2 linked regions of the Homo sapiens genome follow. The protein of the gene in region 1 interacts with the protein of each later gene in a pairwise test. Each region holds a gene or a part of one and is shown in the gene's direction. Other genes may lie near its edges.

Evidence for each region.
Region 2: the proteins of ANKRD36 (region 1) and TSC22D2 interact in a two-hybrid assay, tested with the Homo sapiens proteins (one study listed by BioGRID).

What each region holds. Positions count from the first base shown.
Region 1 is NC_000002.12:97,102,613-97,119,323, forward strand, and holds the start of ANKRD36 (ankyrin repeat domain-containing protein 36A), read left to right. Parts: upstream 1-10,540; 5' UTR 10,541-11,127; coding exon 11,128-11,324; intron 11,325-15,451; coding exon 15,452-15,566; intron 15,567-15,729; exon of another isoform or gene 15,730-15,731; coding exon 15,732-15,905; coding exon of another isoform or gene 15,906-15,911; exon of another isoform or gene 15,912-16,337; intron 16,338-16,711.
Region 2 is NC_000003.12:150,456,635-150,472,309, forward strand, and holds the end of TSC22D2 (TSC22 domain family protein 2), read left to right. Parts: intron 1-441; coding exon 442-493; exon of another isoform or gene 494-498; intron 499-1,741; coding exon 1,742-2,002; 3' UTR 2,003-9,788; downstream 9,789-15,675. UniProt on the Homo sapiens protein: Reduces the level of nuclear PKM isoform M2 which results in repression of cyclin CCND1 transcription and reduced cell growth.

The sequences.
Region 1 (16,711 bases):
AAAAAAACTATCGACAGGGTAAACACACAACCTATAGAATGAAAGCAAATGTTTACAACCTATGCATCTAACAAAAGTCTAATATCTAGAATCTATAAGGAACTTAAATCAACAAGGAAAAAACAAACAACCCCACTAAAAATGGGCAAAGGACATGAACACACACTTCTCAAAAGACACCTGCACAGCCAACAAACATATGAAAAAGTACTAAATATCAAAACCACAATGAGATACCATTTCACAACAGTCAGAATGGCTATTATAAAAGGTAAAAAAATAACAGATGCTGGAGAGGTTGTGGAGAAAAGAGAATGCTTATACACTGCTGGTCAGAACATAAATTAGTTCAGCCACTGTGAAAAGTAGTCTGGAGATTTATCAAAGAACTTAAAACAAAACTACCATTCAACCCAGCAATTCCATTTCTGAGTGTATACCCAAAGGGATATAAACCATTCTACCATAAAGACGCATACAGGCATATGTTCATCGCAGGACTATTCACAATAGCAAAGACATGGAATCAACCTAGATGCCCATCAATGATAGACTATATACACACTATGGAATACCACAGAGCCATAAAAAGGAATGCAATCAATGTCCTTTGCAGCAACATGGATAGAGCTGGAGGCCATCATCTTAAGTGAATTAACACAGGAACAGAAAACCAAGTAATGAATGTTCTCACTTATAAGTGGGAGCTAAACACTGAGTATACATGGACACATAGAAGGGAACATCAGACATCCGGGGCCTACTTAAGGGTGGAGGTTGGGAGGAGGGTGAGGATTGAAAAACTACCTATTGAGTACTCTGCTTATTACTTGTGGAACAAAATGGCCAGTACACCAAACTCCTATGACATACAGTTTACTGATGTAATAATAAACCTTCACATGTGAAAACGTTCCTGTCTGACAGCTTTGAAGAGAGTAGTGGTTCTCCCAGCACAGAGTTTGAGATCTGAGAATGAACAGACTGCCTCCTCACGTGGGTCCCTGACCCCAAGTAGCCTAACCAGGAGGCACCTCCCAGTAGGGGCCAACTGACACCTCATACGGCCAGGTGCCCCTCTGAGATGAAGCTTCCAGAGGAAGGACCAGGCAGCAACATTTGCCGATCTGCAATATTTGCTGTTCTGCAGCCTCCGCTGGTGATACCCAGGCAAACAGGGTCTGGAGTGGACCTCCAGCAAACTCCAACAGACCTGCAGCTGAGGGTCCTGACTGTTAGTAGGAAAACTAACAAACAGAAAGGACATCCACACCAAAACCCCATCTGTACGTCACCATCATCAAAGACCAAAGGTAGATAAAACCACAAAGATGGGGAGAAACCAGAGCAGAAAGCTGAAAATTCTAAAAATCAGAGCACCTCTTCTCCAAAGGAATGCAGCTCCTCGCCAGCAATGGAACAAAGCTGGATGGGGAATGAATTTGAGGAGTTGAGAGAAGAAGGCTTCAGATGATCGATAACAACACACTTCTCCACTGGGCGTGGTGGCTCATGCCTGTAATACCAGCACTTTGGGAGGCCAAGGCGGGTGGATCACAAGGTCAGGAGATCGAGACAATCCTGGCTAAGATGGTGAAACCCTGTCTCTATTAAAATTACAAAAAATTAGCTGGGCATGGTGGCAGGCACCTGTAGTCCCAGCTACTCAGGAGGCTGAGGCAGAAGAATGGCCAGAACCCGGGAGGTGGAACTTGCAGTGAGTCGAGATTGTGCCACTGCACTCCAGCCTGGGTGACAGAGTGAGATTCCCTCTCAAAAAAAAAAAAAAACAAAAAACAAAAAACTTCTCTGAGCTAAAGGAATATGTTCGAACCCATCGCAAAGAAGCTAAAAACCTTGAAAAAAGATTAGACAAATGGCTAACTAGAATAAGCAGTGTAGAGAAGACCTTAAATGACCTTATGGAGCTGAAAACCATGGCATGAGAACTACATGATGCATGCACAAGCTTCAGTAGCCTATTCGATCAAGTGGAAGAAAGGGTATCAGTGACTGAAGATCAAATGAATGAAATTAAGCGAGAAGTTTAGAGAAAAAGAGTGAAAAGAAATGAACAAAGCCTCCAAGAAATGTGGGACTATGTGAAAAGACCAAATCTACATGTGATTGGTATACCTGAAAGTGACGGGGAGAATGGAACCAAGTTGGAAAACACTCTTCAGGATATTATCCAGGAGAACTTCCCCAACCTAGCAAGGCAGGCCAACATTCAAATTCAGGAATACAGAGAACACCGCAAAGATACTCTTGAGAAGAGCAACTCCAAGACACATAATTGTCTTGGAGATTCACCAAAAGTTGAAATGAAGGAAAAAATGTTAAGGGCAGCCAGAGAGAAAGGTCGGGTTACCCACAAAGGGAAGCCCATCAGACTAACAGCAGATCTCTCGGCAGAAACTCTACAAGCCAGAAGAGAGTGGGGGCCAATATTCAACATTCTTAAAGAAAAGAATTTTCAACCCAGAATTTCATATCCAGCCAAACTAACCTTCATAAGTGAAGGAGAAATAAAATCCCTTACAGACAAGAAAATGCTGAGAGATTTTGTCATCACCCGGCCTGCCTTACAAGAGCTCCTGAAGGAAGCACTAAACATGTAAAGGAACAACCAGTACCAGCCACTGCAAAACCATGCCAAATTGTAAAGACCATCAATGCTAGGAAGAAACTGCATCCATTAACGAGCAAATTAACCACCTAACATTATAACAATGACAGGATCAAATTCACACATAACAATATTAACCTTAAATGTCATATTTAAGGTTAAACAATATTTAACCTTAAATAGCCAAATAGATGGCTATTAGGTCAGCTTGGTTTATAGGAATTAACCTGTTTGCAGATGACATGATTTTATATTTAGAAAACACCATTGTCTCAGCCCAAAATCTCCTTAAGCTGATAAGCAACTTCAGCAAAGTCTCAGGATACAAAATCAATGAGCAAAAACCACAAGCATTCCTATACACCAATAACAGACAAACAGAGAGCCAAATCATGAGTGACCTCCCATTCACAATTGCTTCAAAGAGAATAAAATACCTAGGAATCCAACTTACAAGGGATGTGAAGGACCTCTTCAAGGAGAACTACAAACCACTGCTCAACAAAATAAAAAAGGACACAAACAAATGGAAGAACATTCCATGCTCATGGATAGGAAGAATTAATATCATGAAAATGGCCATACTACCCAAGGTAATTTATAGATTCAATGCCATCCCCATCAAGCTACCAATGACTTTTTTCACAGGATTGGAAAAAACTACTTTAAAGTTCATATGGAACCAAAAAAGAGCCCGCATTGCCAAGACAATCCTAGGCCAAAAGAACAAAGCTGGAAGTGTCACACTACCTGACTTCAAACTATACTACAAGGCTACAGTAACCAAAACACCATAGTACTGGTATCAAAACAGAGATATAGACCAATGGAACAGAACAGAGCCCTCAGAAATAATATCACACATCTAAAACCATCTGATCTTTGACAAACCTGACAAAAACAAGAAATGGGGAAAGGATTCCCTATTTAATAAATGGTGCTGGGAAAACTGGCTAGCCATATGTAGAAAGCTGAAACTGGATCCCTTCCTTATACCTTATACAAAAATTAATTCAAGATGGATTAAAGATTTAAATGTCAGACCTGAAACCATAAAAACCCTAGAAGAAAACCTAGGCAATACCATTCAGGACATAGGCATGGGCAAGGACTTCATGACTAAAACACCAAAAGCAATGGCAACAAAAGCCAAAATTGACAAATGGGATCTAATTAAACTAGAGAGCTTCTGCACAGCAAAAGAAACTACCATCAGAGTCAACAGGCAACCTATAGAATGGGAGAAAATTTTTACAATCTACCCATCTGACAAAGGGCTAATATTCAGAATCTACAAAGAATTTAAACAATTTCACAAGAAAAAAATCAAACAACCCCACCAAAAAGTGGGCGAAGGATATGAACAGACACTTCTCAAAAGAAGACATTTACACAGCCAACAGACACATGAAAAAATGCTCATCATCACTGGCCATCAGAGAAATGCAAATCAAAACCACAATGAGATACCATCTCATGCCAGTTAGAATGGCGATCATTAAAAAAGTCAGGAAACAACAGGTGCTGGAGAGGATATGGAGAAATAGCAACACTTTTACACTGTTGCTGGGACTGTATACTAGTTCACCCATTGTGGAAGACAGTGTGGCAATTCCTCAAGGATCTAGAACTAGAAATACCATTTGACCCAGTGATCCCATTACTGGGTATATACCCAAAGGATTAGAAATCATGCTGCTATAAAGACACATGCTTTATATTTATGTTTATTGTGGCACTATTCACAATAGCAAAGACTTGGAACCAACCCAAATGTCCATTAATGATAGACTGGATTAAAGAAAGTGGCAAATATACACCGTGGAATACTATGCAGCCATAAAAAAGGATGAGTTCATGTCCTTTGTAGGGACATGGATGAAGCTGGAAACCATCATTCTGAGTAAACTATCACAAGGACAGAAAACCAAACACCGCATGTTCTCACTCATAGTTGGGAACTGAACAGTGAGAACACTTGGACACAGGATGGGGAACATCACACACCAGGACCTGTCAATGGGGTGAGGGGAGGGGGGAGGGATAGCATTAGGAGATATACCTAATGTAAATGACAAGTTAATGGGTGCAGCACACCATCATGGCACATGTATACATATGTAACGAACCTGCACGTTGTGCACAGGTACCCTAGAACTTAAAGTATAATAAAAAATCATATGAGAAAAAAAAACCTTCGCACGTACGTACCCTTTGAACCTAAAATAAAAGGTGGGAAGACAGAAATAAAATAAAAGAGATTGTCAGTGTAGATTAAAAAGTCGGACTCAACTATATGTAGTCTACAAGAAACACATTCTAAATATAAAGATGCACCTGCATAAATTAAAGGGATGCAGAAAGATATACCATACTAACACTTATCAAAAACACCCCCAACATATCTCTATTAATTTCAGGCAGAGCAGCCTTAAAGAGCAATAAAAGTTACCATAGATACAGAAGGACATTACCTAAGAAAAAGGAGTCAATTCTCCAAGAAGACATGACAATCCTGCATGTGTGTATGCACCTAACAACAGAGCATAGAAATATGTTTAATTTACACTTATCTTCTTATGAGCCATGTTGCGTAACTTTTCACATGTTTAAGATCAACTTCCAATTATTTTCCTATGAAATCTCTATGCGTATCTTTTTAATTTTTTCAATATATTGTTGGTCTATTTCCCCTAAATTTGTAAGAACTATTTGTATATGAGAGATAGCACCCCTTTGTCTATGATATAAGTTGCAAACCTATTTTCCTACTCTTTCATTTGTTTTCTGACTGTGGTGGTAGTCTTTTCTTGCCATGCAAAAAATTTTGTTTTGTTTGTCTTTGATGTAGTTGAATTGACCAGTCTTTTAAAATTGTGTCATTATTAGATGAGCGACTTTCTTTCCAGCTCACCTGAGAATGTGTTTTCCTGTTGAGCTACAGAATGAGCATTGGGTATTTTGTGTTCCTCTGAGAAAGAGAAGAGGTGTGTCTGGCAGCCAGGAGTTGACCTGGTCCTATCTGCCGGGAGTTGGCGATGCTGTGAGCTGCCTGGCACCCACAGATGGATGTTGATGTTCTCTTGTGAGCATAAACAATTCCATAGAACATCTGCTTCATACCATATCATTTTGTGCCAATACTTAAGACAAAAACAAGACCTCTTCATAATCATGTCTGAGCATGAGCAAAGCATGAGCATTGTTCATATCACACAAATGACCAATGTCTCTATTCTAGCTAAGAAGAGTAACTACTGTTTCTTCACCAACTACAGCTTTAACGTTCTTTACCAATTATAGCCTTAACCCATTAAGGCTTTAATACAGGTTTACATCTTTCTACATAAGATTTATTAAGATACCCTGCTATGCTAGAATTACCCCCACTTCCTGACAACACCCAATTCAGAACAAAGCCCCATTTCCTTAAACCCTTCTCCCAGATTATTGCCTAACACAACCCCAAATCCTCTAAGTCCTTTCTGATGTCCTCTTAGTGAGACACCCCACTGTTCCCTGTAGTTTGTATTCTCCCTCACTTAACCAGTAATAACTCACTTCTTCAACTACAGATGTGTTCATGGTGGCCTTTGATTGGAGCCCATTAACATCTCCACTTTTCCTGGTAGCCCAAGGGAATGAGGAGACAGTAGAGGGAAAGGGCGGCTGAGGGCTCTGAGCATTGGTTAGAATGCTTGGGCAACAGATGGCTCTTCCTGTTTCAGTACCATGAGGACTCCCCTGGGCATTGGTTTGCTTTCCTCATTCCATGTGTAGCCTTGACTTCTCTTAGAGGAAGTGCACCCTGATGTCCCTCCACCTTGTTTCTCCTGTTTCTCCCCAGCATCTGTTTCCACCAGTCACCAGCAAGTGAAGGATCGTATAAGGACACCCTTCAGTGTCAGTGTGCTTCACTATGCTCAAAATCACCGGATTTGGAGGTGGATGTGGAGGGTGGGGCTGGAGGATGGAAGAGGAACTTAGGAGCTAAATGCTGACCCTCTCTATTTTGCTCCAGAATGTTCTTTTCCTTTCTCTCTTTGAGTCACCAGTTTCTTTACTGTATTAGGCTATGCCCCTTTCCTTGTTTTATTGCTATCAGTTATTTCTTATTGGCCTTTATAATTTTGTTAGTACCGGGATGGAAAACTCTACAATATTGTTTTTTTCCAATACCGAAGGCATCTCCTCTCCTCATCCCTGCTCTCTCCCTCCAGTTAAAAAAGATAAACACTCCCTGTTGACAAATGTCTTTTCTCTTTTCTGTAGACTCTGCGAGTTCTCCTTTCAGTTTATGCTTTTGGAAACAAAAGTCCTTGTCTGTCCTTCAGGTGTGAGTCAGAGCCAGATTCCTGACTAAATGGAGGGAAGGTTAAGAAAAAATACAATGAGAAATTCATTATAAGAAATTATTTTGTTGTCATCTAGTCATGTAAGTTTTGTCTTTAGTGGTGGTAACGTGCTCATTCATCGTAGTTCGTTGCTCATGCCACGTGGTCATTGTCTCATGCTTATGGGCACCTCTCTTTAGTGACACCCACCTATTGGGGGGAGTCCCATTTGTAAAGAATTTTGTTGATGTGCTGAATACAAATTGATTTCCTACAGTCTTGTCTGTTTTGGGCTGCTATGAGAGAATACCATAGACTGAGTAATTTATAAACAACAGAAATTTGGTTTTTTCACAGTTCTGGAGGCTGGGAAGTCCAAAATCCAGGGGCCATTAGATTCATTGTCAGGTGAGTGTCTGGTCTCTGTTTCCAAGATGTCGCCTTGAAGGCTGCATCTTCCAGAGAGGAGGAGTGCTGTGTCCTCACATGGCAGGAGACTGAAGGGCAAAAGGAGTCTAACTTCCTCCATCATTCCTTTTTCTAAGCATATTTAATCCTATTCATGAAGGCAGAGCCCTCATAGCCTAATCACCTCCAAAAGTCCCCACCTCTTAATACTATCACATTTGTAATATTTGATTTCTGGAGGGGATACATTCAAACCATAGCAGATGCTCATGAAAGTAGAAACAGTGGCTAATGCCAGAGAAAGAAGCTGAGGATCTGGGAAGTCTTACTTGTGGATTTTACGTTGTATGTTCCATTCCCACATGTAAATAAATGAGTTAATTGAAATGGAAGAAAATGAGGAAAGATGGAGAATTGTGTCATGGAACAATGGACAGCAGTCATAACATAATGGGTGAAAACAAAGCTCAAATACATGAGGATGATTATATCTTTAATAGCATCTCGAAGCTGTAAGAGATCATCAAGTCTTGACTTCTATGTTAAAAAAGAAAGAAAACTGATGACCCATATTTAAACTGAGGCATGTGACATTTCTGCTCTACTCAGCACTCTTCACTCATCTAACAAAAATTCATTATGGCTTCTTATGTTCCAGGCACTGGGCTAGGTGTTTAAGGAAGACAGAGGGAGGAAATAAAAATTTTTATAAAACAGTCTTTGTCCTCAAGCAGCTCACAGGGCAGAGAGACCCTGACAGAGTAGAGACTTCATGAAGAGTGGGGATGGGAAGGGCATTCTCTCCACACGCATCCCTGTCCCACCTCGGAGATTTCCTCCTCAGAACGCTACCTCTTACTGCTTTCCTGTCTCACTCTTTCCAGCTCTCAGTTTAGAAGGTGTTTCCTCAGAGCACCCTTGCTGACCTCTCAAGTCTGGTGAATGGCCCTTCTCACTGGTGCCTGGATGCCCTGTGTGCTCCTGTCATGCACACAACACAGCATAGTAAAATGCCTGGTGTATGTGTTTGTCTTTTCAATACTCTGAGCTCTGCTCATTGGCAAATCTCAGGACATAGCACAAGATGTGGCCCCTAAACGTTAACTGAATGAACGAATGGAATCACTGGTATCTCTTTAGCTTGAAGAATAGAAAGCCCTTGTAGGACAAAGACGATTGGGAGAAATGTGAAGTCTGGCGTGGACTCTGTCAGAAGACAGAACTGAACCAATGGATGGACTTAGAAGAGAGAGACTTCGGTTTCACATCAGGAATGATATCATAGTCAGAACTCACCACACACATAATAGGTTAGATGAGGGAGGAGGGAGTCCTTCATTGCAGGAGTTTTAAAGGTAAATACAAGAAATGGGAGGCACTTGGCCTGGCGCGGTGGCTCAGGTCTGTTAATCCCAGCACTTTGGGAGGCCGAGGCCAGTGGATCACAAGGTCAGGAGTCGAGACCAGCCTGGTCAAGATGGTGAAACCCTGTTTCTACTAAAATAGAAAAATTAGCCGGGTGCGGTGGTGGGCACCTGTCATCCCAGCTAATTGGGAGGCTGAGGCAGAAGAATCACTTGAACCTGGGAGGCAGAGGTTGCAGCGAGCCAAGTTTGAGCCACTGAACTCTAGCCTGGGCGACAGAGCAAGACTCCGTCTAAAAAAAAAAAAAAAAAGAAAGAAATGGGAGGCACTGAGTTTCTGGCTCAGTTTGCTGATGCCAGAAATACAGAGATGACTGATCAGTAAAATCCACTAAAAAGTGTGTGACAGGTTTCTTTTTCCTTATATTTTTCTTTTTTAAATACAAAAGTAATACCAGCCCACTGAAAATTTGAAAAGTATATGGCATTAAAAAGAGAAAAATAACATCTGATAATCCAACAAGATAAACCCTCTAAAATTTTTCTCTTTTTAAATGAATATAGTTAAGCTTGAAATAGAATTTTAAATTTATCTTGATGTTTTACTCAACAACGTAGAAGCATCTTTTATGTCATTATTTTAAGTCACAAGCACTTTTAGTGATGATGATTAAAAGAACCATTTGTTTTTTCCTTACTGTTCCCTGTTTTTAGATTTTTGGCTAGTGTCTAATTTTTCCCTGTTATAAATAATGCTGAGATGAACAGAATATGTAGATTTCTAATAATTTGCAAATGAACAGCATATGAAAAACATGAGCAAAAATTTTGCAGTTATAATTACTCAACACGTTTTAAATAAATTACTTTTATTTTGAGCGTTCATTCTTAAATATGTTATAGGAAGTAAGTAAGAAGCATTCCTTACTCCTTAGAATTTTGTTTATAAATTAGTGATGAATTGGAAAGGGTAGCTTGCCCCTGGAATTCTCTGATAAGCACAGGTGATGAGGAAAATGGAAAAATCCAAGAATTCCTTTGTCTTTCCTTAATAGTCAGCTTTAAGTGCAGTGCAGGCGTGCCCTCTAGCGGCCAAATAAAAAATAAAGAAATACGGGAAACCTTCAGCATTGTAACAATCGCACGTCCCCATCTAGTGGCTAACGTGTGTAAATGCAGCTTTTCTAATCACAATAGCGAATGTTACTTGATTTATATTTGTCTCATGAGGTGAAGAACTGGGAGGAATCTTAGAGATCACGTATTTCAACTTCCTCACGGAGTGGCATGCAGGCAGCAGCCTTGGGAACCCCGATTGCCCCTCCTCACACCTGCCCATCACAGGACTCGGGCGACAGGGTGGTGAAGTCAGGCTGTGGCCCCAGCGGCGCCACGAGGCCGAAAACAGGCGCTCAGCCTCATCCCCGTGGCTGCAGAGTGCCAAGCGTCAGGTCCTGCGCTCTGGGCGCGGGTCAGGAGCAGCTGGCAAGGGCAGCGCAGCCTGTGGGGCCCTTGGGCGCGGCCGGCCGCAGCTCCGGGAAGCCACGTCAGCCCACGGGCGCTGCAGCTGCAGCCGCCACCAGCACATGGAGCAGGGGTCCCCGAGGATTGGGAATCCCCGACCAGGCCTGCGCCTCCAGCCGCGCGGACCCCGGGGCCAGCCTGGCCGCGGCAAGTCAGGCAGTCTGCGGCAGGAGCGCCGGGCATGGGCTTCCGCCGGGGGTGCAGGAGGCGCGCACCCTCCGGCCGGATGGGGGCGCACTCAGGGCCCAGGAGGCCATCCCACGGGAGCCCCGCCAGCCCCCGCCGGAGCCCGAGCTGCAGTGCCGCCTACAAGTGGTGCGCTGGCTGCAGCTGTGGCAACCCCGGATCCCGTCCTCCCGCCTCGCACCCATCAGCGCGGACCCCGGGGGCGACGCAGTGGCGAAGTGGGGCTGTGGGCCCAGCGGTGGCACCAGGCGGAGAAGCACCACTCAACCCCATCCCTGGGCTGCAGAGGGCCCAGCGCGGGGGACTCCGAGCGTCGGGAGCCTGTGGAAGAGAAGAGCGCGCGGGCGACAGTTAAACAGGCCCTGGGGCAGGGCGCGCCTCGCGCTCCAGGGAGCCCCGCCCTCCCGCGGCACCTCCGCAGCAACCGCCGCCTGCACTGGGCGCGCGAGAGCTGCTAGGGCGGTTTCTCTGCCTCGGGCCTGTTGGGCAGGGCCGGCTAAGGTGCGCGTGCTCGCTGGTTCTAACCCTTCTGTTGGGCGTTTCTGCTGAGAGGCGGGAGGCGCTGAGAGTCTGTGCGGAGGTCCGTGGACAGACTGCTTTGCTCGTTGTTGCTCTTCGGAGGCGGCGATCCCCGAAGGCGAGCTGAAATACGGCTGCAGGCTACAATTTGCAGCCGACGATTATGGAAGACGGCAAGCGGGAGAGGTGGCCCACCCTCATGGAGCGCTTGTGCTCGGATGGCTTCGCATTTCCCCAATACCCCATTAAACCGTATCATCTGAAGAGGATCCACAGAGCTGTCTTACATGGTAATCTAGAGAAACTGAAGTACCTTCTGCTCACGTATTATGACGCCAATAAGAGAGACAGGAAGGAAAGGTAATGGGGGCCGGGAGCCGGGGCTGCGGGAGGAGGCCTGTGGATGTGGAGAAGTACCCCTTTCCAGGCTGAGGGCTGCGGGGCGGATGGTCCGGGGCTCGGGGTTTGGACGGGGGCTAGGGGGTGCCCGGCTGGGGTGGGAGTGAGTGGAGCGGGGCCTGGGGAGTGGCGGTATATGGGGTGGCGGGGTGTGGAGTGAGTTGGGGGATGGGAGTGGGGAGTAGGGGGTGCATGGGGTGGGGGCGTGAATGGGCTGAGGTGGACGGAATGAAGGCTTGGGGGGTAGGGGCGTGGACGGTGTGGGGTGGGGAGATGGGGTGAGGGTTCAATGGGATAGAGGACTGGAGGTGGGGGTGAGGGGTGGGGGTGAATGGGGTGGGGGAAAGGGGTGCAGAGGTGAGGGGGGCGAGTCCTGTCACCAAAGGGGCTGGACTTTCTTTCCTGGCAGGCTCAGCCGCACCTGGGATGTGGAAACCTTGGCGGGGGCGAGCACCCAGGTCATTTTCACAAGCAGCAAAACAAAAACAAAACTTCAGCTGGTTTCCAATCACTCACCATGCTGCTTCTTTATAAATCATTTTAAAGTGATTTCACTAATAAAATTCAGCATGTACAGCGTTTTATTTTTAACGTGCACATTTTAAAGCATAATGTTACATACATTATGGAAAGGTGCATAATGAGAGAAATCATTTCCATAATATATCAACTTCCTGGCTAAAAATTCTTTGGATAAAAATCCAATATTTATTTGATATCAATGGACACCTATGTCAATTTGGTTTTCACTGAGGGACCTTAGAGGGAAACTTTGAAGTGGGAAGATGGTCTGTGTTCTTGAATAGAAAGACACATTTTTCTAAAGTTCTGAGCTCTTTCTGTGTTTATAAATTTTACATAATCCAAATAAAGTTATCAAAGTGTTAACATTTTTGAATTACTCATGCTGTCTTTTACTATTGTGACGACATCAAGAAAACTTTTGAAATGGAGTCAAAAAAGACTTGCCTTTCTAGATATGAAAATGTGCTGTTAATTTCCACAAGTTATTTACTAACAGCTGAAACAACAAATCAGTGAATGGAACAGGTTAGAAAATCCAGGAACACACCAATATGTGTAAGAATTTATTAGGTTGGTGCAAAAGCAATTGCGGTTTTTGCCGCAATTACAAGTAATGGCGAAAGCCGCAATTGCCTTTGCACCAATCTAATAGAATTGGATAATGGTGACATTTCATATTAGTAGGAAAAGATGAATTACTCATAAATGAAGTGCCTGCTAACTATTTGGAGAAATCTGGCTAGATTTTTATGTCACAGAAATAAATTCGTTATGGAATGTAGATTAAAAATTTTAAATGCACAAAATAAGAAAGATAACAGAAAAAAACACAAATGCCTACTTATATTGATGCATGTTTATATTCCTACAAATATCACAAGCACACATTCTGAAGGTCGATTTAGCAAAATAAAAAAAATCCAGTTTATAAGAAAAAATTAACAAAAGACAATATGTGTATATACATATTAGATAAAAAAGTGATTTTCATTTTACAGAGAATTCTTCAAATAAACAAGAACTCTCATTTAAAATAGAGCAAAGCATTTATTTTTCAGATGTTCAAGCAACCTATGCACATGGGAAAAAATATTTAGTGTTCCTGGGAGGAGAAGGTATTTAAGTTAAAAAAGGAATGAAATACTATTTTCTATCACAAGTTTGTGAGGGTAAAGGGTAGCAGTACATATACTGCTGTTGAAAGTTTACATTTCTGATGACTTTTCAAATAGACAATTTTTTGGTAAGTATCACACTGTAAAAATGTATGTGCCCTTCACCCATCAATTCCATTATACTAAAATATCTCTAGGAAATAGAGATACATGCAATTTGTTTTTCTCAGCACTGCTTAAAATAGCAATGTATTTGGAAAACCCCTTATAATGGATTTTATAAATTTTATAAATTTATCAATAAATTTCAGTGCATCCATAGGATGGGACAATATGGGACCTTTGCAGATGTCAGTAGATACAGATGTATGTTGAGGTGTGAAGATGTACTCTGAAAAAAAGTTGGTTTGATTATACATACACACAAACAATCTATGGTGTTTGTAAGCCAAATATGTGTACAAAATGTAACATTTCTTCTTTTCTGGCAGGTGTATTGTGATATTTTCTCTTATCTGTGATGTATAAATGATCAGTATGTTTAAAACTTCTAGTAAATGTTTTTTATTAATGAAATTATCCTTGGAAAAAGAAGAAATATAAATCTTGCAAAGAAAAAATAATTCTCAGTTTCTATTTTATTTTATTATTTATGTCTTTGTTTGTTTGTTTATTTTTGAGATGGAGTCTCACCCTGTTGCCCAGCCTGGAGTGCAGTGGCATGATCTCGGCTCACTGCAATCTGCCTCTCAGGTTCAAGTGATTCTCCCACCTCAGCCTCCTGAGTAGCTGGGATTACAGGTGTGCGCCTCCATGCCCAGCTAATTTTTGTATATTTTAGTAAAGACGGGGTTCACCATGTTGGCCAGGCTGGTCTCAGACTCCTGACCTCAGGTGATCCCCGTGCCTCGGCCTCCCAAAGTTCTGGGATTACAGGTGTGAGCCACTGTGCCTGGCCTTATTTTTATTTTTTTGTTTATTGGTATCTTCTGTGAACTTTTAGCCTCTTCAGAGGCAGAGGGAATATTTTTATTTGTGCTTGATTATTTTATTATGCATAGATTTTAGTACATAAATAGGTTTTTATTATAGTTTTATTACATATAAGGAAACAATTTTAAATTAATTATTTTAGTTTATCAGTGTCCTCATGAAAATGAAAATGAGCAAATATAAGTGATTATCACTATTCCAAAAGCACTGCTTTAATTTATAGTTTTTTTCATAATAAACTTCCCAACTGTATGTATGCATTCTTTCAATCCAGTTATTCATCAAGCATAACCTGAATACCTATTATGTAGCAGACAGATTCCACCATCTCTCAGGACTCTTCCACCCTTAACAACTTCATGTTTACCTGCCCAGCCTGAGCAAGCTGAGATTTAAAATGGAAGCGTTAGGACTTAATCCCAGTTGGATCTTTTATTCCTTTTTTTTTTTTTTTTAAACAAAAGCAATTCTGAAGTTAGAAAATAGTGAAAGATAACCTTTAACTGCCATTTCAGAAACTTATGACACTCTCAAATACTACTATTAATCGTTGCAAATACCTAATTTACATAACATTCTGTAAGTATTGAAAAAAATGGGCCATACCTATTCATTTGAATCCTGAGTTTTCTTTGGATTATTTTTTTTTTTAAATTGAAGTGAGAATTACTTTGTTTTAAAAATTTGTTTTTTTATTTTTGCCTTCTTTTTCCACAGTACTTTATTTAGGTGCCAATTATATGAGTAGAACTGCCTGTTCTATGTACTGTATCCCACTTAATGTAAGGCATCACGGATTGGGTGATGCCACATTACTTTATATATCAATAAGATAATGTTTAAAATGTTGCCAGTTATAAATGTAATAAACAATTAATTGTAAACAGTATTCCAATGTCAGGAGATGTTAATATATAAGAGAATAGTAGCTTATATAAGAGAATGGTGAGAAAATGAGCATCTGAGAATGACTGAAATACAATGATACATCTAATCTTTAATAGATACCTCAATGTAGATATGATTGTATCATTTTACTTAATTAAAATGTCTTTGTAGGTAGTAATATCTAAAAATTATTGAGCTGTTATTTGTGTTAGAAAGTGTTCTAAATGCTGTGCATAGATTCTTATGTAAGCATCACAGCAGTGTTCTGTGGGCTAGCTACTATTCTCTTATATATTTTATTGATAAGGAAATTGAAGCAAAGAAAGGCTAAATAACAGCTAAGTGACAGAGCTTACAGTAAATTTTAAGCCCCAATTAAACTGAATCCAAAAGCCAAGGCTTTTCTATTAAATAGCCTGCTCTTTCATTAATGTGGTGAGTAATAAGCGCTAACAAATGTTGTACTTTCTTCACAAGAAAATTACATATTTGTTTTGAAGACAGAGAAATGACATGCTAATTAATGCTTACAGTTACATGTTTTAAAAAGTCCTGTCACTCTCACAGGACCGCCCTACATTTGGCCTGTGCCACTGGCCAACCGGAAATGGTACATCTCCTGGTGTCCAGAAGATGTGAGCTTAACCTCTGCGACCGTGAAGACAGGACACCTCTGATCAAGGTATATAGTAGCTGACTCTTTGAGCATGAGATGGATTTGGTTGAAGTACATAGGATAAAATGAATTTATCTCATTGGAATACCACCATATAACTAGTAGGAAATCCTACGGAGTGTTTATTTTGATTTTTCAGTATTTGCATGTTTCTCGGTCTAATACTGACAGGCTGTACAACTGAGGCAGGAGGCTTGTGCAACTCTTCTGCTGCAAAATGGCGCCAATCCAAATATTACGGATTTCTTTGGAAGGACTGCTCTGCACTACGCTGTGTATAATGAAGATACATCCATGATAGAAAAACTTCTTTCACATGGTACAAATATTGAAGAATGCAGCAAGGTATAGGTCAACCAATGTTATTTTCAAACTATCTGAAATGCATTTATTTTAACATTGACACATGTAAGGGTCAATTTTTCATATTTGGAAGCTCAAACATTCCTTGAATGAAAATATTTTGAAATGCCTTAACTGTCTAAGATTTTACTTTAAATATTGGAACTTTTAAAGAAGCATTATAGGGAACAGCCTTTTTTCATGCACTTATGGTAAATAACTATAAAAACAAATGAATTACAATAAATTTATAATTCATGACAACTGAATTTGGGAAAGGTAATAGTTAAGTGTTTTTCCACTAAATTACTTTTTTTCTAATCAGTGTGAAGTGACACAGGAAAGTAAAATTGTCCCTTATAAATAGGCTTTATTTTAAATGTCAAAGAAAATTAAAGAATTTCACAATAAATGTACATGTTGTTGCTGTTGAAAGTGTTGTATGTGAAGGTGATTTCATTTGAAAGTGATTCCTCTGTGGAAAGGCTTAAGAGGGAAAAATGAAGAAAAGGAGAGCAATCAGAAATGCACAAGCTAATTTGGAAATTAGGTAATGAGGGAAAATACTGTGGAGAGGGTTTTTGTGTGTTTTGTTGTTTGTTTTCAATTTATATGTTTAGACAAAGATCGCTTCAGTTTTGGGGATGATTATTCTTACTTTGGGAAAGAGTTTGTGAGTTGTGAAATTGCCCAGGGATCAATTTTGGTAAGACTCTGAGGAAACCAGGTTGGCAGTGAATAGTGGTGATGAAGCGGCACACAGTTCAGCAGAGAGAAGAACACATAATTAATGGACATTATTCAATTCT
Region 2 (15,675 bases), on another chromosome or scaffold:
AAGTCAAGCCATCATCTGAATTTTACTACAATAAGTAATTATTGGAATTTCTACATGAAAGGCAATTAGAATGTATAGTTGGTTAATGTAGAAATTTAAGAGATACGGAGAAGACACTGCCCATTTAAAATGTATCCTTTTAAAACCACTGAACAGAGAAATTCTTAATACAATTGAGAGTTAGTTTTAAAGTAGCATACATGTATTACAGGCAAATTAGAAATGTTGGCACTACAAAGGACCTGTAGAAATCATCTATTTACTGAGACTTTCATTTTAGAAATGAGAGCTTTGAGTACTGAAATTGTCAGAACAGAATAAGCTATTTTAAATTACTGTATATTTGGTTTTAAGTGAAACACAAATGTCTTTTACATTCTTTTAAGAGTTGGAAGGGAGGTTAAATTTTTTAGAATAATAACATATTCTAATTTTTTCCAGTGCATCTGGGGGAGGTGTTGTAGCCATTGACAACAAAATAGAACAAGCAATGGTAAGTAAAAGTTTACAGTTCTCCCATTTCATAGATTGTTGGTTGTATGGAACACTTAGCTTTTGTCAGTTTTAGAAAACAAATAAGTTATTTAAACCAAAGATGACCAAATCATGTTTTTTGATAATGAGATTTAGTTGAAGATGCTAGAACGTTGAGAACTTTTAGTCTAGAAATACTATTTAAGTAGATATTTCTTCCATTTGAATATCTCACATTTCATGCATTATCATTGATAAGGGCCATTGGTGAGGGGGCATACATATTTAAAGACAATATGTTCCCCAGATATTTCAGCATTGAAAATACTTTAGAGTGAAAAAGAGTATTAAAGCAAAAACAGCTGGAGGTCTGATTGAAGTAGACTGTAAGTAAGCTATAAGTAGGCCAGGCACAGTGGATTGTGTCTGTAATCCCAGCACCTGAGCTGAGGTGGGAGGATCACTTGAGGCCAGGAGTTTGAGACCAACTTGGGCAACATAGCAAGACCCCGTCTCTACAAAAAAAGTTGGTATTTTTGTTTGTTTTGAGATAGTCTCGCTCTGTCACCCAGGCTGAAGTACAGTGGCATGATTTTGGGTCACTGCAACCTCCACCTCCCAGGTTCAAGTGATTCTCCTGCCTCAGTCTCCTGAGTAGTTGGGAGCACAGGCACACACCACCACATCTGGCTAATTTTTGTATTCTTAGTAGAGACGGGGTTTCACCATGTTGGCCAAGGTGGTCTCAAACTCCTGACCTCAGGTGATCTACACGCCTCAGCCTCCCAAAGTGCTGGGATTACCGGTGTGAGACCTTACAGGACTGTTAGTCTCAAACTATTTTTTTAAAAATACCAAAATTTTAAAGTCCAAAATTACAGATCACTTTAAAGCAGTACTATGACTAGTTTAACATCAAACAGCTTTCCGTTGGAATATTGTTCCTTTGTTCTCTTTATCTACCATTTTAAGCATGTGATTTTAAACTTTTTTTTTTTTTAATTCTAAGCTTAGTTGACAATTTAAGAAGCTAGTATTTTTTGGAAATCGTCCCAAACTTTGAAAAGAAAATTCTGGGCTTACTGCTCTGGTTGGGAACTGGATTTTTTCCAACCCATCTTCCATAGGCTCGGTCAAGATAAAGCAGAAACATTAAAAGCAAGAGCAGGAAAACTAGTATAAAAACTTAGCACCAAGTAGGCCAGAACCAGATAGCACCACCTTTATCTTTTCACTCTTTTGACATTCCTAATTTTGTTTTTCACAGGATCTGGTGAAAAGCCATTTGATGTATGCAGTAAGAGAAGAAGTGGAAGTTTTAAAGGAACAAATAAAAGAATTAGTTGAAAGAAACTCTTTACTTGAACGAGAAAATGCACTGTTAAAATCTCTTTCAAGCAATGATCAATTATCCCAACTCCCAACCCAACAGGCCAATCCTGGTAGCACTTCTCAACAGCAAGCAGTGATAGCACAGCCTCCGCAGCCAACGCAACCTCCACAGCAGCCGAATGTCTCCTCAGCATAAAGCTTTCTTAAGCCTCATTAAGAAAAAAACTGAAAGCAATCTATCCTTGTGTGCCACTGGTGTTCTTTCCACTTTATACGAAAGCAAGTAGCCATGCTTTGGTTGTGTGTTTGGCCTTTTCAGTATTAGACAATCATTCTACAAGAGCTTTTCCTCTCTCTGAGATGTCATGCAGCGCTGTTGATGTCCAGTTCTATGTCATCAGTACACAAGGAGAATAATAGATGGGGTTTATTAAAGCGAGCAAAGTCTGCATTTTACCTGGTGCGCATGAGTGGGGTCTTTAAGAGTTTTGGTGGCTCTCCCATGTTTCCTATTACCCATGGATTTACCCTGAGCCTTCCTATCACATTATAAATAACAGTTCATCTAAAGAGCCACTTTTCTTTCTGATTCAGTAACATTTGCCTACATAAGTTTTCATTTATTTGTGTTTTATTTATTACAGGGCTGCTATTTTCATAATGTACATGAACAATGTCACAGAACTTTTTTAATTTTTTTGAATAATTATAAGTATCAGTAAAGGAAGTGAAAGACAGGATTGCATTTAATAGATAAAACGTTTAGGCAATAATTGAACAAAAGAATCCTGGCATATTTCTAACACTAATGGCAATTTACTTATGGTATTTATTTTCAGTAGTAAAGACCCAGCTTGAATGTAAATTTTGTATAGTGTAAGTATGAAGAACATAGTGCAACTGTACAGGTAGTCACCAGTTATTGTGATATGATAAATAATTGGGCTATTTTGATGAAGAAAACTTTGTTCATTTGTTTCTACTTTCTAAGAGAAATTGCCACGATTCCTCTGCTTTTCAACATTTCGTATGACTTTTTTTTCGGGTGGGAATAAAAAGCTGTGAAATTGTTCAACCTACTTTGTAACCAAAGAAGCAAAGCTGTGTAATGGAGTTTGGTTTTTTTTTGTTGTTTTTTTTTTTTTGTCTTTTTTTTTTTTTATAATGCACATTCTTTATGTATTTTTATTTAGTGTTTTCTCAGTCACAATTTTCTTTACTGTCTAGCATGATCTGCATGACCTATAATCTTTGAACCACTTTCGTACCTCATGTTTTTATCCAGCACTCTTATTGTAATATGTACTAGTCTGTGAACAATGTCAAATAAAAGAGAACGAACAGGTAGTTTGGTGGAGCTGAGCTAGTGTACAATACACTAGTTGTAAAAAAAAAAAAAAAAAAAAGTGAGCCATCTTTTGTTCATTTAAAATGGTGTTTTGAATTTCGTATGCAGAAAACGTTTTGTTACATTGCAGATTTTAATGTATTTAATAAATGCAACATGCAGATTAAGTGCAGTGTATACTGAGTATTTAAATTAAAATGTACATTTCATAAATACAGTTTCAAAAGAAAGCATCATTTTGTGTATACTAACACATTAAGTGTATGTCAGAAATTGATGTATAAATATATATTTTAACATTTTCTGAAATTAAACTGCAGTTTTGTTGAAATATTTGGCTCTATATGTGTTCAAAATTTGACTAGATTTGTATTTTCACAGTTCAAAATACTCCTTAAAGACCTGTTAATAATGACTTACTGATAGTTCTTAAATTTTCAAAGTAAAACAATTTAAAGAATGCAAAAATAGTGAGCAATATTTGTACTCAATATTCATATTATGTTAGTGATACTTAAGTAGGAAATCCTTGTCTACCAAAACTTTTACTTGAATTCAGAAAGGTGCCTGTAGAAATTAACATGCACTGCATCTGTAGCCAGCTAGCTAATCAGAGTTAATGAGAACCAGTAGTTAGTTCTCCGTGTTAAAAGACTTATTTGAAGTAAAAATTTAATCAGATTAGCCACAAACAAACAAGGCATAAAATTGGGATGTACATGAGATTGCCAAATATTTTCTATTCTAGTTGTGCTGCAAGACATTGAACAAAATGTTAATGAATAACATTATAAATCAAGGAACTAAGTACATAGGCTTGAGTAAGCAACCCTAAGGATGTGTAGTAAGATTCCAAGTAGAGCTGCTACAGGTGAGATACTTAATGGAATGTGAAACTTCACTGTTGGACTGTTAACCGAAAAGGTTTGCTGGCTGTGCCCCTCCAGTGCTAACTGTGACATGTGATATTTAATACAGGTGGAGAAAAACTAGTCTTAGAAATGGGATTTTTGTGAAAATAGATTCCATTTTGATTCTGGGGCTGGAAAAACACTTCATAAACAAAGTAATAGTCTCCAAGGAAATGAATAATAAGGTTTAAAATGGTAACAGCAGTTATTACTACTTTTATATTAAGAAAAACAGTAGAAAAGGAGAGAAAATATGGGTAGTTCACAGAAGAGATAAATGGCAGTTTCTAAAGGTTCAACCTCTAGTAACCTAAGAAATGCAAATTAATGTTTTTGGCGAATTGTAATAAGTGTCCTAAGTAGCAGGACTTAACATAGAAAGAAAGACAGGCTTTCCTGTGTACTTTTAGAAAGTAATTTGGCAGTATGTATCTAGAGCCTTAAATAATAAGCTTTCCAGTGTAACGACAGGAGAAGATACTCAACTCATGGTCCATTGTTCAAAAATGCAGAATTATTGTGGTGTCTGCCCTCTGCTTTCCCATCATCCCCTCCCCTCAAAATCCAAACTATCCCTACTGTCAACCCTTCCCCCAGCTGATTGTTTAGGATCTTAAGTAACTTCCAATTCAGCTTTGGAGATTTAGTCTCCTGCTCCAAATAGTTGTAAATATTAACTGATTGAGATCCCAATTTGGAGGCACAGTCTTACAGGAATGCCATCTATCTAATTCTGTCAGTGTAATGCCCATAGAGCAAGGTCCCACATAAGCTTTTCTGTTTTAATTTAGCCGGTAAATCATAAGTAGAAATTTTTCTGATACGGTAATTGTCTACAATTCAAACCTAACTTTCCCCAAATAAAATTTAGTTTGTTCCGATGTGATCTCACAGCTTGCCACACCAAAAACAAATAGTAGGGGTTAGGAGGCATTAAATAAACAGTTTCCTTAACTCCTGATTGTCCAAAATAGCTGAATTTTTCCAATTCTATTTATAATATCCTATGCTAATTAGAAGTATTGAGATAACGTTTTATAATCAAGCCTCCAGTGACTGGGGATCACAGCTGCCATTATTCACAAGAATTTTCACAGGTGAATGATTATATTTCTCCAAGTTGCAAACTCCAGTAATTCATGGACCTTTTTTTAAAAAAAAAAAAAGTCTTAATAGAACCAGAATATCTCTGTTCTTGAAAATTTATCTTTGCAGAACCAGAAATAGCTAATTGTCTGGAAACAATTTTTAAGATTTGAAGTCACATTTTTAAAAGAAGCTTTATGGCTCAGTGGCAAGCACTTTGTGACATTTCTTTAATAATCCTATGAAAAGGACAAAACCCAGCCCTCAAAATTGACAATTTGAGGACATAATAAGCCAACTGATAATGCAGTGAGGAATACTTGTTACTATGTACAGTCAGGGATGGTTTTGTCAGGGTAGGTTTCCTCAAAAACATGACACCTGAGTCTTGAAGGTCATAAGAGCCAGAGGGAAGGGTGTTCCAAGCACAAGAAAAGAGAACTCAATGGCTTAAAAGTATAAACAAGGCTCCTAGGGCAGCCACAGAATTGCATTGGAGACAGGCAGGCAGTGACTTCCCCACTGACCTAGTATTTTGGCATCTATTCAGAAAGCAAGAATGATTTATTGAATGGTTTTAAGCAATGGGATACTATGCTCAAATTATGCTGGATGTGCACAATTCCAGTGGCAGATGGGAGGTAGGTTAGAGTAGCTGAAACTGGAAGCTGAGAAATAATTTAGGAGGGATGACAATCCGGAAAATAAATGAAAGGGCAAAATTACATAGGCAATTTTGTGAAGGTCATGAAGGAAGTTTGTCTTGGGTCTTTCTGTACCATTTTCCTCTCCACAATGAACATCCCATTCCCAGTGTCAGGTATCAGGTGCCTATTTTCTTTTTTTCTTTTTTCTTTTTTTTTTTTTTTGAGACAGAGTCTTGCTGTGCTCAGGCTGGAGTGCAGTGGCAAGATCTCGGCTCACTGCAACCTCCGCCTCCCAGGTTCAAGCGATTCTCCTGCCTCAGCCTCCTGAGTAGCTGGGATTACAGGCGTGTGCCACCATGCCAGGCTAATTTTTGTATTTTTAGTAGAGACAGGGTTTCACCATGTTGGCCAGGTTGGTCTTGAACTCCTGACCTCAAGTCATCTCCCCCGCCCGCCTGGGCCTCCCAAAGTGTTGGGATTACAGGCGTGAGCCACCGCACCCAGCTGCCTATTTTCTTGTCCCTCCAAAAAAAGATTAAAGAGTCCCAACTCATACTTGAAAGTTTGACTCGGTCTTTTCCTTCCAACAGTTATAAATCTGTGAAATGAAAGTCTTTGTTTCCTTAAAGGGATTTCAAGAATTTAACAAAAGGGTTGGGGAATGGAACCTTTGCTGTCACTATGCCTGTCTCTCAATTCTACCCTAAAGGTAAACTAAATGGAATCCTTTTATGGTGACTAGGATTAGGATGTTGATTCCAAAGCCTTTCCCTAAAATCTATTCCTTGCTCCCTGGAAAGGATAATACAGGTTCTGGCCCCCACTGTAGGTACTGACAGCCCAAGGCAGAATAGGTTTTGCTAGGCTTTAGCCTTTTATTCTTTGACATAGGTCAGTCCTGCAGGCTTCTTTTTTCTAAGTCTCCTGCCTATCCAAAACCAGACCTTTTCTCCCACCTCCTTCTGCTTCAAGCCTCTTAATAATCCATATTTCTATTTTCTAGCAATAGTAATAGTTTATTATTTAGTGATGTATACTTGCACCCCATTTACTCCTTTTCAATATTTCAGGATACATCTTTGTCCTGTATTTCTGTACCAGTTCACAGAATTTCTACAGCAAGATCCCTTTAAATGTATGGCTTTCCTTCATAGGTTGCAAGGATTACTTTATACAAGTGCTACTGTAACTATATCTTTTGTGGAGTACAATTGGTATGACATGCTGTGTTCATAGATGAAAATGCTAAGTGAGGCACTCTGAAGCAAGTTAAAGTTCACAGACATTCTTGCTTGCCCACCACCCCCCCGAACCCCGCCATGGAATCATCAAATAAGAAAAATAAGACAGATTTTCAGATTGGTGATGGCAAAGTAAGACGCTGGTATTTTGCACTGGCGCAGTCCATTTAGTTGTTGAATTTGTTCAGCATACCTGGATGGTGAGTGAGTTAGCTTTATTTTTCATTCTCAGCAGGGAAACTGATAGACTAGGCAGTTTGGGGAATTTTCCCATTGTCTACTGTCATGGGTCCATAGTATTTAAGTTTACAGACTACAACATTGTCCACAGAAGCCATATTTATCCCCTTGGAGGGAAGGGAAAGGTGTGCTAACTTAGATCATAAAAACAACTGAATTTTAAAACAAGGCAAATGCCACAGTTCAACTTCTCCATAAAAAAGTTAAGTTCATCTCTCCATTCTTTTGCATGCCTACAATATTTCCATATAACAACTGTAAAATACTCTTGCCTGCTGCAATCCAAATGTTATCCGGATCACAGTTCTTGCTGTCATTTCACAGGCATGCAATGTATCTATAGATAGGTCATATCATACCTGAGGAAGATCAGAGACAGCAAGGGAACATTTTCCCCACACTTGAGATGGAAATAATAACAGGTCAGTGGCTAATAAAAAGAAACATGTATGACTTTGTAAAACCCTAAAAGTGATGTTTTCAAGAAATTTAGGTTTCTTTTTTTTATTTTATAAAAAAAATGTTGACATGCAATTTAATTCTATTTCAATTTAGGTGCTGCAACCTGTACTGGATGTTTGGGGATAGAAAGATGAATGGGACATGATTTGTGTGCTCCAATGAGCTCAGTCCAGTGTAAGTGTAAAAGTTAAAGTGCCATATTGTTTATTCAGAGTATATGTTATAGTTTGTGAACCTTATATCATTTGTTAAATGAAAGGTTTTTATAAATCAACAGTAATATTGCCATCCCATGTAAAAATCCTTTGATATTGCCAGGAAACAACTTTAAATCACCAGAAAGCTTTAACATCAAATAATACTTTTAGAAGGAGGGGAAAAGCCTTCCACCTCGACATCGAGCCTATGAAGTATTCCCTAAAAAAGAGGAACTAATCTGAGAAAAGTTTACACATTTTTAATACTCTAAGTTGTAGATAATGAAATTGATTTAAATCAAAGTTAACTAGAATAGGATTCATGTGTCATGAATTATATTGTCTATTGTCTCATAAGCAACAAGTGACACTTATTATCTTGGCTGACAAAATCAGCTACCATTTAATGAACCAAGTTAAGAATAACTCAGGTGACTGATACCAAAAATAAATCTCTAATACAGCTGAGAATCCAGAAACACAAATAATATGTTGAGTAAGTAATAAAAGTGACATTTCAAATTAGTAAGGAAAAAATGGATTATTCAACAAATAGTATGGGATAGCATAACAATTTAGAAGAAATATAAAGTTAGATCTTTCACAAAAATTAATTCTAGCTAGACTAGCAGTTAGTCTTCTACTTTTTGGTTACTCCCTTTTAGAAATTGGAAGCTATGAAGCTATATACCCTGTCCATTTGAAAATGCACATAAGCAAAGAACTTTACAAATAGGTTATAAAGAGAAGCTCAATCTCAGCAAAATAAGGGAAGTGCACATTAAAACACAAGAAACCATCTCAGATCCAACTAATATTTAGCGTGCATACAAATCAAAAGCTGGAAAGGGTGTGGAAAAACAGGAATACATTGCTAGTGAGCATACAAATTGGCACAGCCTCTTTTAAAGACAATTGTGTATCACCCATTAAATTTTAAAAGTCACATACCCTGTGACCTAACAATTCCAACTTTTAATGTCCTAAAGAAACATACATGTGTTCACAAGATAGCCTGTACAATGATGTCAATTGCACCTTTGCTTGTACAGTAGACCCCCTTATCTGCATTTTCACTTTTTGAGGTTTCAGTCATCCAAGGTCAACCACAATACAAAAATATTAAATGGAAAATTCCAGAAACGAACATAAGTTTTAAACTTCAAACCTTTCTGCATAGTATAATAAAAATCTCTCACTATCCCTCTCCATCCTGCCTGGGACAGGAATCATCCCTTTGTCCAGTGTATCCACAATGTATACACTCATTATATACCCATTTTATAATGCCCATTAGTCATTTCTATTATCAGATCATAAAAAAACATAGTACATAGAGGGTTTGGTATTATTCATGGTTTCAGGCATTCAGTGAGGGTCTTGGAAAATATCCTCCATGATGGGGGAGCTACTGTAATACTATGAAATTGGAAAAACCAAAATACTCATCAAGAGGATGGACTATGGTACACATGATGAAGTATTAAGTATCAATGAAAAAGAGAGAGTCCTACATGTCCGGCATGGAAGGATCTCCAGGAGACAATGTTAAAAGTTTGGGGGAAAAATTGAAAGACAATACCTGTAATACATATGATACTAGTGATGTTAAATCACATCACACACACACACACACACACACACACACACACACAAATACTGTATAGTGTACTTCTACAAGTACATATTTGTGTATTATATAGAGAGAAGGTCTGGAAGGATACTAACCAAACTGTCAACAGTAGTTTGGTAGCGTGCATTAGCTTTAACTGTAATGTTTGATGTTTTTGAATATGCATTTATGTATTGTTTGTGTAATGACAAATTAATAAATTAGAAATAAAATAAAATAATGTGTTTTCTTCTTGTCTGCTGCTAATGTTTCCCCCTGGTACCTGGGGTCTCATCATGTTCAGCATCTTTCCTCCCCAGGAATATCTTCCCCCCCTACCTGTTTCTTCTACTTCGCCTTCTCCCATGGCTTTTTCACATCAGTATTTATACAGGCTCAATAAATAACTGGCCAATAAATGAGTAGACCACCTCCCCTAACTGAAAATATGTTCCCTTCACTTGCTTTTTCAGCTCCTTCCTCTTCCTTTCCACTTTTTCCTCTTCCACGTACAGCTTATCACAAACGCAGTCTGGCTTTAGCTCCCATTGTGCCACTGAAACTGTTCTTGTCAAGGTCATTGATGATCACTTTGTTGCTAATTCTATCCCATATCTTATTGAACTGCTTTACTCCTAATTTCTCTTTATGATCATTTCATTACTCTAGTAGTTTTCTATCTCTTCATTTTCTAACTTCACTTTTTTTTTATAAAGAGTTTCCCTTATAAAAAGTATATAGTTGAATTTTCTTTTCTGAACCAGGCAACACTTCATTCCATGAAATAGAATAAGTGTTCCCAATTTTTTTCTTTTATAGAGATGAAGTCTTGCTATGTTGCCCAGGCTGGCTTTGAACTCCTAGGCTCAAACAATCCTCCCACCTCAGTCTCCCAAGTAGCTGGGACTACAGGTATCCACCACTGTTTCTGGCTTGAATTTTTAATTTCTTAACCCAATCTGTCTTTTGATAGAAAAATTTAATCCATGTCTATTTCATCAGTGGCATATTTGGATGTATTTCTGCCATCTTATTTCATGTTTTCTCCTTAAAATGCTTTCTAGACACCCCACCCCCGCACCGGCCACTGCCTTGCCACACACACACCCTTTTTCCCTTTTCTTGGCTTTCATTCAGTTGTTTCTTATTCATTTTTGATCCCTCTTTTGGTTGGGAAGTTATACATTCCAGATACATTCTTCCAGTGGTTACCTTACAATTTTGTTTATCATTTTGTTGTGGATTTTTCAACCATATACAACAGTGAACTGTATAATGAACTCCCATGTACTTATCACCTAGCTTAAACAATTATCTACTCATGGCCAATCTTGCATTATTTATACTCCCACTCATTTCCCCTCCCCAGGATACTCAAGAATGTCACCCCCCAGAAGGGAGTTCCAAGAGGAGGAGGAAAATGTGAACCCCAGGACGGAATTCTAGGGGGAGGAGGAGAAAGGGCTCTGGGACCTACATATGGGGCTTAAAGTGAAGAGCCTAGGAAACTTGGGGTGAGAGAATGCCAATACTTAGAAAGAATCCATGATCCTCTGGATTATTTTGAAGGAAATCCAAGATATCATAGACTTTATCCATATATATTTCAGCGTATACCTCTAAAGGACAAGGATTTTTTAAAGAAAAATTATAACTAAAATACCATCACCCCACCTCAAAATGAACAATTCCTTAATATTACTAAAAATCTACTCAATGTCCACATTTCCCTGATTATCATAAATTTCTTATGGTGTATTTGTTTGAATGTGGGTCAAAATAAGGTCCATACACTGCAATTGGTTGGCATTCCTCTAAAGTCTCTTTTAATATGTGGGCTCCCCATACCTCTCTTTTCATCTTGAAATTCTTCAAGAATCTCAGTTATTTGCCCCATAGTTTTTTCTGAAGTCTGAGTTTTCCTAATTGCATTCTTATAGAATCCTCTGTCCCTGTATTTCCTAAATTAGTTCTAGAAGTTTAATCAGATTTATATTTTGTCAAGATTAATTCATAAGTGGTGGTATATACTTCCATCATATAATGTCTGTCTCTATTTTGTGATGTTGGAAGCATGGATAATCATTACCTAGACCCATTAGCCTATTAATTCTATTATCCCTTCTCACTCATTAGCGAAATACTTCTCTAAAGAGAGACTTGCCCTTACCAACTATTCAGCTACCCTGTGGTACAGTTTGTATAAGAAAGGGAGAGACTTAGTTCTTTCCTTTTATTTCCCAGTTTTCAAAATAATGAGTTGAGTACCTACAAAGGAATAAAAATAAATAAGGCATGATTAGGGAAGACTTACTCTGATATTTTATTCTGGGAAGAAGGAAAAGAGAATGCAGTGAGTTGATTTAGGATGCTATGACTCAGGTGTTAGTAGAGAGAAGCCAGGAAAAAGCCCCCAAAAAGTTGATAACAGGAAATGGCGACCTGAAGATTTGTCTGTTTACTGCTGAGTCTGGAAGCAACTTCTAAGTGAAGAGTACCTTGAGGGAATAGGGGTGGGAAGCCCATGTCTGGGCAGAGAAAGGGCTAGTTCAGAAGAAGCAACTGCAGGTAAGAAAAGCAGGTCGGTTAGCCCACGGATTCAGAGAGTGAAAAGTTACAGAAATGAGCAGTGGATTTTTCTGGGTTTACTTTCTGCCACACAGAGACTAGACATACTATCCTTACAATCTGACCATGAACCAGGAAGTTTACTAAGAAAGGCTGCATGGGGTAGGTAACATTTAGCACATGCAACAATACTTTTTATTTTATTTTATTTGAGATGGAGTTTTGCTCTTGTCGCCCAGGCTAGAGTGCAATGGCGCGATCTCCGCTCACAGCAACCTCCACCTCCCGGGTTCAAGCCATTCTCCTGTCTCAGCCTCCCTGGTAGCTGGGATTACAGGCATGCGCCACCATGCCAGGCTAATTTTTTGTATTTTTGTAGAGACAGAGTTTCACCATGTTGGTCAGGCTGGTCTCAAACTCCTAACCTCAGGTGATCCACCCACCTTGGCCTCCCAAAGTGCTAGGATTACCGGCGTGAGCCACCGCGCCCGGCCAACATGCAACAATACTTCTAAGCAAGGCGATACAGATCAGCAACTCTGGTGCCGATGTGTTCTATTTCCTTTGGTATCTGTGTCTTGATTCTTCACGCAGACCAATTTTGTTATCATCTTAATGGTCTTTCCCATAAGGAACCCACTAAGAGGTTTCAGTGTTGGGACATTAGCTTAAGAACCTAGGTAGTCAGCACGAGAACCTAGGTCTGTGGGACTCTCCTATTAATGACTCCTCTTACCTACCATTCTCCAGCCAGCGTTGTCTCCTGTTCTTCTCACCTCCCCCTATTCCATCCTGCCCCGAGTAGTCTATTCGTGCTAAAGCATTCACTGAGAAAAACTGTAAAGGGAGAGTCCCTTCTCAGAAACACCAGCTTCTTTTAAAATGGAACTTTTGAAGACCTCCCTGTTCTGTTCTCTGGAGAGAGTGAACAAGTAGAGACTTGGCAATAGCTGTGGAAACACCGCCAGCCTCTTGCTTCCAGCAACCTTGAGTTCCAAACCTGTGAGTCTTAGTTTTATATTCACTGACTTCAGCTTCCTGAACCCATCCCAGTTCAGCATTAGGTAATGGCTGTGATGACAGCTGACTCATCTGGTAATGCAGCTTTCCTGGAGGCTTCCTCTGCTCAGATAATCACACTCTGGGAGGGAAAAAAGGTTACAACAATCTTCTACCCCAGGATACTCAAGAATGTCATCCCCCAGAAGGGAGTTCTACGAGGAGGAGGAGAATGTCAGCCCCAGGAGGGGAGGTCCAGCGGGAGGAGGAGAAGAGGCTCTGGGCCCTACATAGGGGGTTTAAAGTGAAGAGCCTAGGAAACTTGGGGTGAGAAGGTGCCAGTACTTAGAGACAGAAACTGAGTGGTATAAAATGGAATGAGAATCCCCTCATTGCCCTTTGACAGCTGAGAAACTTCAAACTGGGCCCCGTTTGAGGGTAAGTTCTGCGAGAGTAGAGACTTCTACTTATTTATTCACAATTGTATTCCTGGTAACTAGTACGGTGATGTATTGCTTGACAGAAATACATTCTGAGAAATGTGTCGTTAGGATTTTGTCATTGTGCAAACATTATAGAGTGTACTTATACAAACCTGGATGATCTAGCCTACTACACACCTGGGTTATATTGTATAGCTATTGCTGCTAGGCTATAAAACTACAGCATGTCACTGTACTGATACTATACTGTGACACATGGTAAGTATTTGTGTACCTAAACATAGAAAAGGTACAGTAAGGATACAGTATAAAAGATTTAAAATGGTACACCTGTATAGGGCACTTACCATGAATGGAGCTTGCAGGACTGGAATTTGTTCTGGGTGAGTCAGTGAGTGAGTGGTGAGTGAATACGAAGGCCTGGGGGCATTACTGTGCACTACTGTGGACATTATAAACACTGTACACTTAGGCTACACTAAATTTATTTTTAAAACATTTTCCTTTAATAATAAATCAACCTTAACTTATTGTAATTTTTTTTTTTGAGACAGAGTCTTGCTCTGTCTCCCAGGCTGGAGTGCAGTGGCATGATCTCAGCTCACTGCAATCTCTTCCTCCCAGGTTCACGACATTCTCCTGCCTCAGCCTCCCGAGTAGCTGGGACTACAGGCAGCCACCACCACACCCGGCTAATTTTTTTTTGTATTTTTAGTAGAGACGGGGTCTCACCGTGTTAGCCAAGATGTTCTCGATCTCCTGACCTCGTGATCCACCCTCCTCAGCCTCCCAAAGTGCTGGGATTACAGGCGTGAGCCACTGTGCCCGGCCTTTTTTTTTTTTTTTTTTTTTGAGACAGGGTCTTGCTCTGTCACTCAGCCTGGAGCATAGTGGTATGATCATGGCTCACTGCAGCCTTCACTTCTTGGATTCAAGCAGTCTCTCACCTCAGCCTCCCGAGTAGCTGGGACTTACAGGCACATGCCACTGTGCCTGGCTAATTTTTTATAGAGATGGGAGTTTCCCTTTGTTATCCAGGCTGGTCTCGAACTCCTGGCCTCAAGAGATTCTCCCTTAGGCCTCCCAAAGTGCTGGAAATACAGGTGTGAGCCACCATGCCCAGCCACTGTAACTTTTTAGTTTTATAAACTTGAAATTTTTTTAACTTTTTTACTCCTTTGTAATAACACTTAGCTTAAAAGGCAAACACATTCTATAAGTGTACAAAAATACTTCCTTTATATTATTATATAAGCTTTTTTCTATTTTAAAATTTTTTAACTTTTTAAACTTTTTTGTTGAAAATTAAGACACAAACCCACATATTAGCCTAGGCCTACACAGGATCAGGATCATCAACATCACTGCCCTCTACCTCCACATCTTGTCCCACTGGAAGAGGTCTTTAGGGGCAATTACATGCATGGAGCAGTCATCTCCTATGAGAACAATGCCTTCTTCTGAAATACCTCCTAAAGGGCCTGCCTGAAGCTGTCTTACAGCTACCTTTTTTTTTTTTTTTTTTAATAAGTAGGACTGCACTCTAAAAGATAAAAAGTAGAGTATGGTAAATATATAAACCAGTAACATGGTTATTATCATTATGAAGTATTATGTGCTATACATAATTGTATGTGCTAGACTTTTATACGACTGGCAGCACAGTAGGTTTGTTTACATCGGGCATCACCACGAACATGTGAGTAAAGCGTTGCCCTGTGACTTTACTGATGGCGGCCCACAGTTGACCTAAATGTTGTTATGCAGCACATGATTGTACTGTTATTAAATGAATGAATGAGGGTTCACACCTATCTTACATATTCTTTATTCTTGAGCTTTCTGATCTCTAAATGTAGCCTGAGATAGCCAAATCATAGCCTTGTTGTAAGGATCAAACAATATAAAATATGTAAATCACGTAACTTGGATCTGGCCCACAGCAAGCATACAGTAAATGCTGCTCTTGTTTTCTTTCTCACCCCTTTCTAGGCATCTGGTTGAAGCAATGCTCTTTCTCCTCACTGCTTTTTGACCAAAAGCTTGGGAAAAAGACTAGGCAATCTTTAGGCCCAGGAAATAGCACCTGTGATAAATCCAAGGTCACCTAGATAG